Linked DNA regions of Homo sapiens: region 2 is linked to region 1. Evidence: fine-mapped expression QTL. A gene starts in region 1. The other region holds a variant in brackets. All regions are shown on one strand. Distances are between the middles of the regions. Region 1 holds the start of ZNF358 (zinc finger protein 358). Region 2 overlaps ARHGEF18 (Rho/Rac guanine nucleotide exchange factor 18).

Region 1 (4,385 bases):
TGTGGGTGTCAGCGTTTCTGTGCTCCTGAGCACATGGCCTGAATTCTTGTCCCATACTTGGAGGCGGCAGATTAATTTAGGGGGCGAGTTCTGGTAGGGAGGCCCCCCTCCAGCAGCAGCATTCTGAGCTCTAGAACCCATGTCTGGGGGATAAGAATATGGAACAAATAACATCAGGTATCCCTCCCAAGTCACTGGGGAAAGACAAGAAGACTCTGGCTTGCCCTCTGGGGAAAAGAAAACCTGAATTCCAGAGCTCACAGCTCCAGGTGGGAGTCAGTGTCAAATCCTCTCTCTTAGACAGATCGGAAATGCCCTTTCCTACAGCCAGATAGTGAGCATGGTAGAGTGATATTTGGGACCCCTCCTGGTGAGGAGGGATGGGTAGGGAGACTCATGAACCCCATAGGCAGGATGGTGGGGACAGTTGTTAGTATACCTGTTTTATTTATTTATTTATGTTTGAGATGGGGTCTTGGTATGTTGCCCAGGCTGGACTCAAACTCCTGGGCTCAAATGATCCTCCCACCTCAGCCTCCCAAAGTATGGTGATTACAGGCATGAGCCACCATGCCCGGCCAGTATACCTGTTTTCCCTATTGGCTAGAAGGTCCTGCATTTTAACTTCTAGCTGGAGGATAGGCAAAAATAATACCTGGGGACCCTCTGAAGTTAATGGGGGAACGCCTGAGTCATCTCCTCCCATGGCTGGGACATGGCGGGTAGTGTCAGCACACTTGTAGCCCTTCCTGCAGGAAGGATCCTGAACTGAATTGCCAGCTTGTGGCTAGGGGCAGACTGGGAGGTAGAGGGACAAAAGCTGGAACCACTTCTGGGGAGCAATGGGAGCCCAGGATGACCTGCCGGGAGGATGCCTTGAGCTCCCCACCCCATGGCTGGGTGTTGAGGTGTCAACAATGAATGATCTGCTCCTGGGAGAAGCTGTGGGGGGACCTGTGGCTCCCCTTCTGGGGAAAGGAATACACTGAGCCACAACCCCATAGCTGGGAGTGTGCAGGCAAACAGAGCCGAGTTCCTGGACGGCGGTCCTCAACCCAGACCCCATAGTTGGAGAGTGGGGGAAACAAGACCTGGGACCCCTCCTGCATCAGGGGCAGAGGAACCCTTAGATTGCCTCCAGGGGAAGGAGCCCCCTGAATTCCCATCTCTTAACTGGAAGGTGGGAGGAGAAATCACTTAAGTCTTTCCTGAGTTCCCAGGGGTGAGGGCAGGTGGACCCCTGGATCACCTCCAGGGAAAGGAGCTTCCAGAACTGCAGACCCCAAGACTGGAGGGGCAAGGGAACAATCGCTGGGACCCTTCCTAGGGTCCTGGGGGAAGAGGGAACCCCTAGGTCCCCCTTTTGAGGACAGGGCCTCCTGAACTCCAGACCCCAGGCGGGAGGTGGGAACAATACCTCGAATCAGGAGGGGAGGGGGTCCTGGATCGCCTCCTAGGGAGGGGGCGTCCTGAGCTCCAGACCCCAGAGCTGGCGGGCGCCCCCCACCCCGCCCGATTGAAGGCTCCCAACCTCCTGGCCCTTTCCCCCCGGGCCCCAGCGGCGGGATGGGTGCGCTAGGCCGGAGCTGGCCGCAGAGTCCCCTCCCCATCGCTCCCGCGACCCCCGCTCGCCTGGGCCAGGGCCGGCGGCGCGCAGGGCGGGGGACGATTAGAGGTCGCCCCGGGCTGCGCCCCGCGCCTGGAGCTCCCCCGCCCGCCCGCCCCCCACCCAGCCCCCCGCCCCGGCCCCAGCCCGCTCGCAGGGACACTCACCCGGCGCCCCTCGCCCCTGCCCGGCCCGCCGCGCCCGCGCCGGCCGCCGGCTCCCCCCGGGCCCGCAGGAAGCCCCCCGCCCGCCAGCCCCGCCGGCGGCCCCCTCGGCCCAGCGGCCCCGCCAGGCGCTCCCGGGGAGCGAGAGGGGCCGGCCGAGGGCCGCAGCGGGAGCTGCTGGGACTTGTAGTTCGCCCGCGCCCGCCGCGGCCGTCGCCATCGCTGCCCCCGCCCCCCGGGCAGGCCTTTGTCCCCGGCCAGGCCACCCCGACCGCGCGGCCGCGCCTTTGTCTGCACCGTGCCCCGCCCGCACGCAGCCCTGGCCCCATCCCTAGTCTCCTCCTGGGCCTGTCTCAGTCCCTCTGTGGCCCTGGCCCTATCTCTTTCTCTCCATCCCTGTCCCTCTCTCTGTCTCTCTCCGTCCCTATCTCTCTATCTCTGTTCATTCTCTGTCTCTGTCCCTGTCTTCCCATCTCTGTTCCTTTCTCTGTGTCTCTGTCCCCATCTCTTTCTCTGTGTTCCAATCTCTTTGCCTCTGTTGCTTTCTCTGCCTCTATCTCTCTCTGTGTCTGTCTGTCTCTCTCTCTCTGTCTCTGCCTCCTGCCCATGTCTCTGACTCTATCTTTGTTCGTAAAACTCTACACATGTTGTTCTTGGAGACTTGCAGCGCACATAGGCACAGCCAAGCCTCTCAGCTCTGCAATCTAAAAACATGTCTATTTTTGCTTAACCTGGCCTTCCTCCAATTTTTCCTTTTTGCATGGTGAAACCCGTCACCCTTTCTGGGTAACACCCGCCAAGGCACAGATTTGGGATATTCCTCCTCTAGTGTTTTCAGCCTCCTACCCAGATGGTGGGTCACCGCTGTCCCTGGAGGCCTCCAAGTGCTAGATGTGAGTGATGGTTTCCGGAGAACCCTACGCCGGGCCGGGAAGGGCTCGGGGCAAACTTTCCTTGGAGACACAGATCCCCGCTGCCAGCCAGGAGAGAGAGTGGAAATCAGCTCCTGATGGCTGGGCCGCGATGTTCTCCACTAAATATAAACAATGGTCACAGAATATAAACAATGATGAGGCAAGGCCACTCTGTGACCATGTCTGAACCAAGATAGAGACATGGGCCCTGTGCAACCACAAAAATGAGTTCTCATCCCCCTCTCCAAGTGAACACAAATGACTGCCACTTCTTACCGACGACAATTCCAACCCAACTGCCATCCTCCCACCTCTGAGACAAAAATCACTGAAATACCTAGTCAGCAAAGCGCTCCCAGGTTCCCGACAATACCACCCTAGTAATTCTCTGTAAAACCACCCAGTATAGGCTGGGTGCGGTAGCTCATGCCTGTAATCCCAGCACTTTGGGAGGCCAAGGCGGGTGGATCTTGAGGTCAGGAGTTTGAGACCAGCCTGGCCAGCATGGTGAAATCCTGTCTCTACTAAAAATACAAAGATTAGCCAGGCGTGGTGGCAGGCACCTGTAATCCCAGCTACTCGGGAGGCTGAGGCAGGAGAATTGCTTGAACCCAGGAGGTGGAGGTTGCAGTGAGCCGAGATTGCACCACTGCACTCCAGCCTGGGCAACAGAGCGAGACTCCGTCTCAAAAACAAAAACAAAACAAAAAATGCAAACCACCAAGTACAAGCCCAAATTCTATAAGATACTCCTCTGTCCCCATGTCCTCCTTATAGAGACACCCTATGGTTCCTTCTTCCTTCCTGAACCTTCTAGATGTGTGTTAGACTCAGCCTGAGACCTGCTTTCCATCTTTCCGCAGAGCCCACAGCAGATCTGAGAGATTGGAGATAACTTCAATTGGATTATGCCCCTGGTTCCTTATCCTGACACTTCCTGGATGATCCCATTACAAATACATGTGATGACATCTGTTGTTTCTTTGGCTCAGAATCTAACAGTACTTTCTTTTCCTTTGTGGGGTCCCCTCCACTACTCCAGATGCACATGTGTCTAACACCCCTTCCCAGTCCCACGTGAGCTGGACTCTAATCAAAGGGCCCCTATCCCCTGGCCACAATAATTAGGTATGGGTTGAGAAGGTGACATTGGAGGTTCTCACTCTACTTCTGGGGTTATGAGCCACAGGGGGCTCATTCTGCCTGCAGCCACTTTCCCCAGTTGTTCAAAAGAACGGTCTGCAGACTGAGGACAATATGCACCAAGATGTACAAGTAAGAGTCAGAGAGATAGCTCTGGCTATATTTGTTGAGCTCCTGGATATAGCCGTACCTGAAGCCACAGAACTCATTCTTTCCTGTACCACAAACCAACAAATGTTCTGGGTGTTTGAGCTGGTTTTAGTGGATGTCTGTTCTTTGCATCCGTGACAGTCTTGACTAATTTAGGAATTATTACCTGGAAAGGAAAGAGTAATAAAAAAAATCTTTTAAAAAAAACCCTAAAATGTGGAACAAACTAAAGAAAGATGGGATAGAGAGCCAGGGTTGCCACATACATGGACTATAAAGTGAATAGGGCACCTTAAGTTATGCAATGCACGACCTGTCTAGATGTATACGGGGCTTTGTAAAAGAGCTTTCCCCCAGAAAACTAGAGTTATGTGGAAGAAAACCAGCGGATTAAATTGTTGCCTGGCC
Region 2 (4,385 bases), 99 kb after region 1:
CCTGGGGTGAGGGGCTGCTGGGGGGCTGGAGAGCAGACACACCTGCAATGCAGAAATGAAGGGAGAGGCCCTTCCATTCCCTGGTGCTTACTGAACAGGCGCCAGGTGGACTAGCAGATGTCTGAAAGGAAAGACTCTCCAGGAAACAAGTATTTGTGGAAACTCAAAAGAGCCGTCAATGAGTGCCACCTTCACCTCCTCTCCTCCCTCTCTCCCCCTTGAATCCACACCGACAACTCCATCAGCCACATGGGCCGGGGCAGAGAGGGCAGGTGTGCTAGGAACAGACATCGCAGCCACGCTGCCCGGGCTCAAACCCCCACCTCCGAGATCCAGAGCCAGGGACCTAACTGCACCCTGCCTCCATTTCCCCCATCTGTAGGATGGGGATAATCGTAGTGCCTGCTGGCTGGGCACAGTGGCTCACACCTGTAATCCCAGCACTTTGGGAGGCTGAGGTGGCAAGAAGGTGACAGAGTGGCCATCTGTCACTGACAGAGTGGGAGGAATGCTTGAGCCCAGGAGTTTGAGACCAGTCTGGGTAACATTGCAAAACCCCATTTCTACCAAAAGTAAAAAATTAGTCAAGCATGGTGCACGCCTGTGCTCCCAGTTACTTGGGGGGCTGAGGCAGGAGGATCGCTTGCGCCCAGGAGTTCTAGGCTGCAGTGAGCTGTGATTGTGCGACTGCACTCCAGCTGGGGTGACAGTGAGATCCCGCCTTAAAACAAAACAAAACAAAACAAAAAAACCCCACAAACACAAAAAACCAGTAATGCCCTCTCTGGGGGTTGGCTGTGATAGAGAACATTCTGGAATGCTGTCTGACACAAAGCAAATACTTTCCTTGACTATTTGTACTACCATTCACTTCCTCCGTAGCTGCTGGAATGATTCAACTAACAACCAAGTCAGGCATGTCCCTCCTCTGCTCAAAGCCCTGCCATGGCCCCCACCTTCCCCAGGAACCCGTCTTCACTGTGACCTGCAAGAATGGTCGGCAAACTATGGCCCCAGGGCCAAATCCAGCACCTCCTTTGGTAGAGCAAAAATATGCACCAGAGACCTTATGCTGCCCACAAAGCCCAAGGTATGTACCATCTGGTCTCTTACAGAGAGTCCAGGACCTCTGGCCCCACCCAGGCTATCTCCTCACCAGCTACCACCAGCCTTCACTCTCCCACTCTCCTGGGCCACCTGGCTCCACCCACCCCGGCCTCCTCCAAACATGTCACCATCCCACTGGGCCCCCGTGGCTGCTGCTCCTTCTGCCTGTCCCCATCTTCTTTTTCATTTTATTTTTATTGAGACCGAGTCTCGCTCTGTCATGCAGGCTGGAGTACAATGGTGCGATCTCAGCTCACTATAACTTCTGCCTCCTGGTTTCAGGTGATTGTCATGCCTCAGTCTCCCGAGTAGCTGGGATTACAGGCGTGCGCCACTCGTCTGGCTGATTTTTGTATTTTTAGTAGAGATGGGGTTTTGCCATGTTGGCCAGGCTGCTCTCCAACTCCTCACTTCAAGTGATCTGCCCGCCTTGGTCTCCCAAAGTGCTAGGATTACAGGTGTGAGCCACTGTGCTGGGCCAACTTTTATTTTTAAATGTATAATTTTCAAATAGAGACAGGGTCTTGCTATGCTGCCCAGGCTGGTCTTGAACTCCTGGCCTCAAGCAGTCCTCCTCCCTCTGCCTCCCAAAGTGCTAGAATTACAGGTGGTAAGCCATCTTGTCTGACCTGCCCACCTTCTCAGTGAAGCCCCAGAGGCCACCTTGTTTAAAATATCATCCAGGCCAGGTGTAGTGGTTCACACCTGTAATCCCAGCACTTTGGGTGGTGGCTGAGGCGGGTGGATCACTTGAGGTCAGGAGTTCGAGACCAGCCTGACCAACATAGTGAAACCCTGTCTCTACCACAAATACAAAAATTACGCAGGTGTGGTGGTGCGTGCCTGTAATCCCAGCTACTTGGGAGGCTGAGGCAGGAGAATCGCTTGAACCTGGGAGGCAAAGGCTGCAGTGAGCCGAGATGGTGCCACTGCACTCCAGAATGGGCAACAGTGTGAGACTCCATCTCAAAAAACAACAACAACAA[CAAA/A]AACAGCCGGGCATGGTGGCTCACGCCTGTAATCCCAACACTTTGGGAGGCTGAGGCGAGCGGATCATGAGGTCAGGAGATCGAGACCATCCTGGCTAACACAGTGAAACCCCGTTTCCACTTAAAAATACAAAAAATTAGCTGGGCGTGGTGGCGGGCACCTGTAGTCCCAGCTACTCGGGAGGCTGAGGCAGGAGAATGGTGTGAACCCGGGAGGCAGAGTTTGCAGTGAGCCAAGATCGTGCCACTGCACTCCAGGCTTGGCAGCAGAGCAAGACTCTGTCTCAAAAAAAAAAAAAAACCCAAATAAAATATCATCCACCCCAAAACACACACACACACACACACACACACACACACACACACACACACACACGAATTTTCTCCGTGAGGCACATCACAGCCTCCTTGCACTCAGGGGCACTTGCTGGCACTGCAGCACTACGTTTGAAGGTCATTTTATTTTCTAAAAAATTTATTATTATATTGTTATTTTAGAGATGAGGTCTCTGCTGCCCAGGCTGGACTGCAGTGGCGTGATCGTAGCTCACTGCAGCCTCGAACTCCTGGGCTCAAGGAATCAAGGGATCCTCCTGCCTCAGCCTCCCAAGTAGCTGAGACCACAGGTGTGTGACACCATGCCTGGCTAATTAAAAAAAATTTTTTTTTTAGAGATAGGGTCTTGCTATGTTGCCCAGGCTGGCTGGTCTCAAACTCCTGGGCTCAACTAATCCTCCTGCCTAGGCCTCCCAGTGTGCTGAGATTATAGGCATGAGCCTCCTCGCCCAGCTAGGGGTCATTTTCAACATTAACATCACCAACAAGAAGCACACAAATGCGAAAACCGTGGTACTCCATAGACCTTCAACAGGGCATGTGTTTACAGTGTGAGAGGCTGAACGAGAAGGTGGAGTGTCGCCTCGCTCAGCCTCAGCTGGGAACCTGTGTGGGAACTCCAAGTTTTCTCCACTCTGCACCAATATGAATGGATTCATGTTGCGGTTACAGAGAAATTTTAGCAAGCGGGTGAAAATTAAACAAAGAATTACCATCCGATCCAGCAATTCTACTCCTGGGTATATCTTCAAAAGGGTAAACACTGACTCTGCAAATCCCAAGGCTCAACTGTAGTTTTGTTTATTTAGAAGGGAAACTCCAGGAGCTGCGGGTCTCTGTGGTCATGGCTGGCACGAGGCCTGTCATGTGGTGGGTGGGTGCTTAACAAATACGCGCTTCAGGGAGGGAGGGAGAGGACGTCTGGGAGGGACCTGGTCTGGACCGGTCAGAGAAAGGAAAGGGCAGGGTGGAGGGAATGTCTTATTCCAGGAGGTTCTGCCATGGGCCTTGGGGGCCCTTGGAGAGTCACTTTGTCATTGAACCTGAAGCCACGGAAAGGTTTATGTGGAGGATTGGATGAGCTCTGCTTCTCGAAACGATGGCTGCAGCGTGGGGAGCAGGGCACACTGGAAGGGGTTGCTGGTGGACGCAGGGGGACCGGGACCTCGAGGGCAGGGTGGAGAGTGGCAGAGAGGGGCGGTGCAGGGGCCATGAAGTGGGGGGCAGAGTGGCGGGCTCGGCAGCAGGCAGCCGCTGGCACGGGGTGTTGCGCTCAGGAGGGCGCTCTAAGCAAGGGGTGGACATTTGGGCCTAAGGTGCTACCTGAAGCCCGGGAGAACCCAGGAGTGCCCAGGAGCAGGGTTAGGGAGGTGGTTTAATGGAGCTGCCTGGAGATTCAATGGGATAAGGGATGGAACTAAGGTCCTTGGGTCCAGCTTTGTTGAAAGCGGTCTTGGGAGCAGAATAGCTGAATGGCATGCGTGGTTTTTATTTTGGGGGAGGGGAGAACACAGTTGTATCATAATCACTGGCTCAAACTAGTATTATTTTATTTATTTATTTACTTATTTATTTTGAGATGGAATTTTACTCTGTGGCCCAGGCTGGAGTGCAGTGGCACGATCTCGGGTCACTGCAACCTCTGCTTTCTGGGTTCAAATGATCCTCTTGCCTCAGCCACCCGAGTAGCTGGGATTACAGGCACCTGCCCCCACACCCGGCTAATTTTTGTATTTTTATTGTTTTTGTTTTTTTCTTTTTTTTTGAGACAGAGTCTCGCAGTCGCCAGGCTGGAGTGCAATGGCGCGATCTCAGCTCACTGCAACCTCCACCTCCCGGGTTCAAGCGATTCTCCTGCCTCAGCCTCCAGAGTAGCTGGGATCACAGGCACGCACCACCATGCCCAGCTAATTTTTGTATTTTTAGTAGAGACGGGGTTTCACCATCTTGGCC

The links. PIP is the estimated chance that this variant, and not a neighbour inherited with it, causes the effect.
Region 2: its variant is the best candidate, but not a certain one, in a credible set for the expression of ZNF358 in whole blood (INTERVAL, PIP 0.58).

Annotation. Positions count from the first base shown.
Region 1 is chr19:7,513,638-7,518,022 of GRCh38, reverse strand. ZNF358 (zinc finger protein 358) reads right to left here and starts at 1,920. Exons shown (of 2, transcript NM_018083.5): 1 at 1,774-1,920. It overlaps LOC105372261 (a long non-coding RNA gene), which reads left to right. Exons shown (of 3, transcript XR_936294.3): 3 at 3,548-3,670. RefSeq lists a silencer at 1,839-2,088.
Region 2 is chr19:7,414,618-7,419,002 of GRCh38, reverse strand. The region is part of intron 10 of ARHGEF18 (Rho/Rac guanine nucleotide exchange factor 18); the gene reads right to left. Among named protein-coding and RNA genes, the nearest start is that of ARHGEF18-AS1, 22 kb to the right of the region's middle. The variant CAAA/A (reference allele first, on the strand shown) is at 2,094.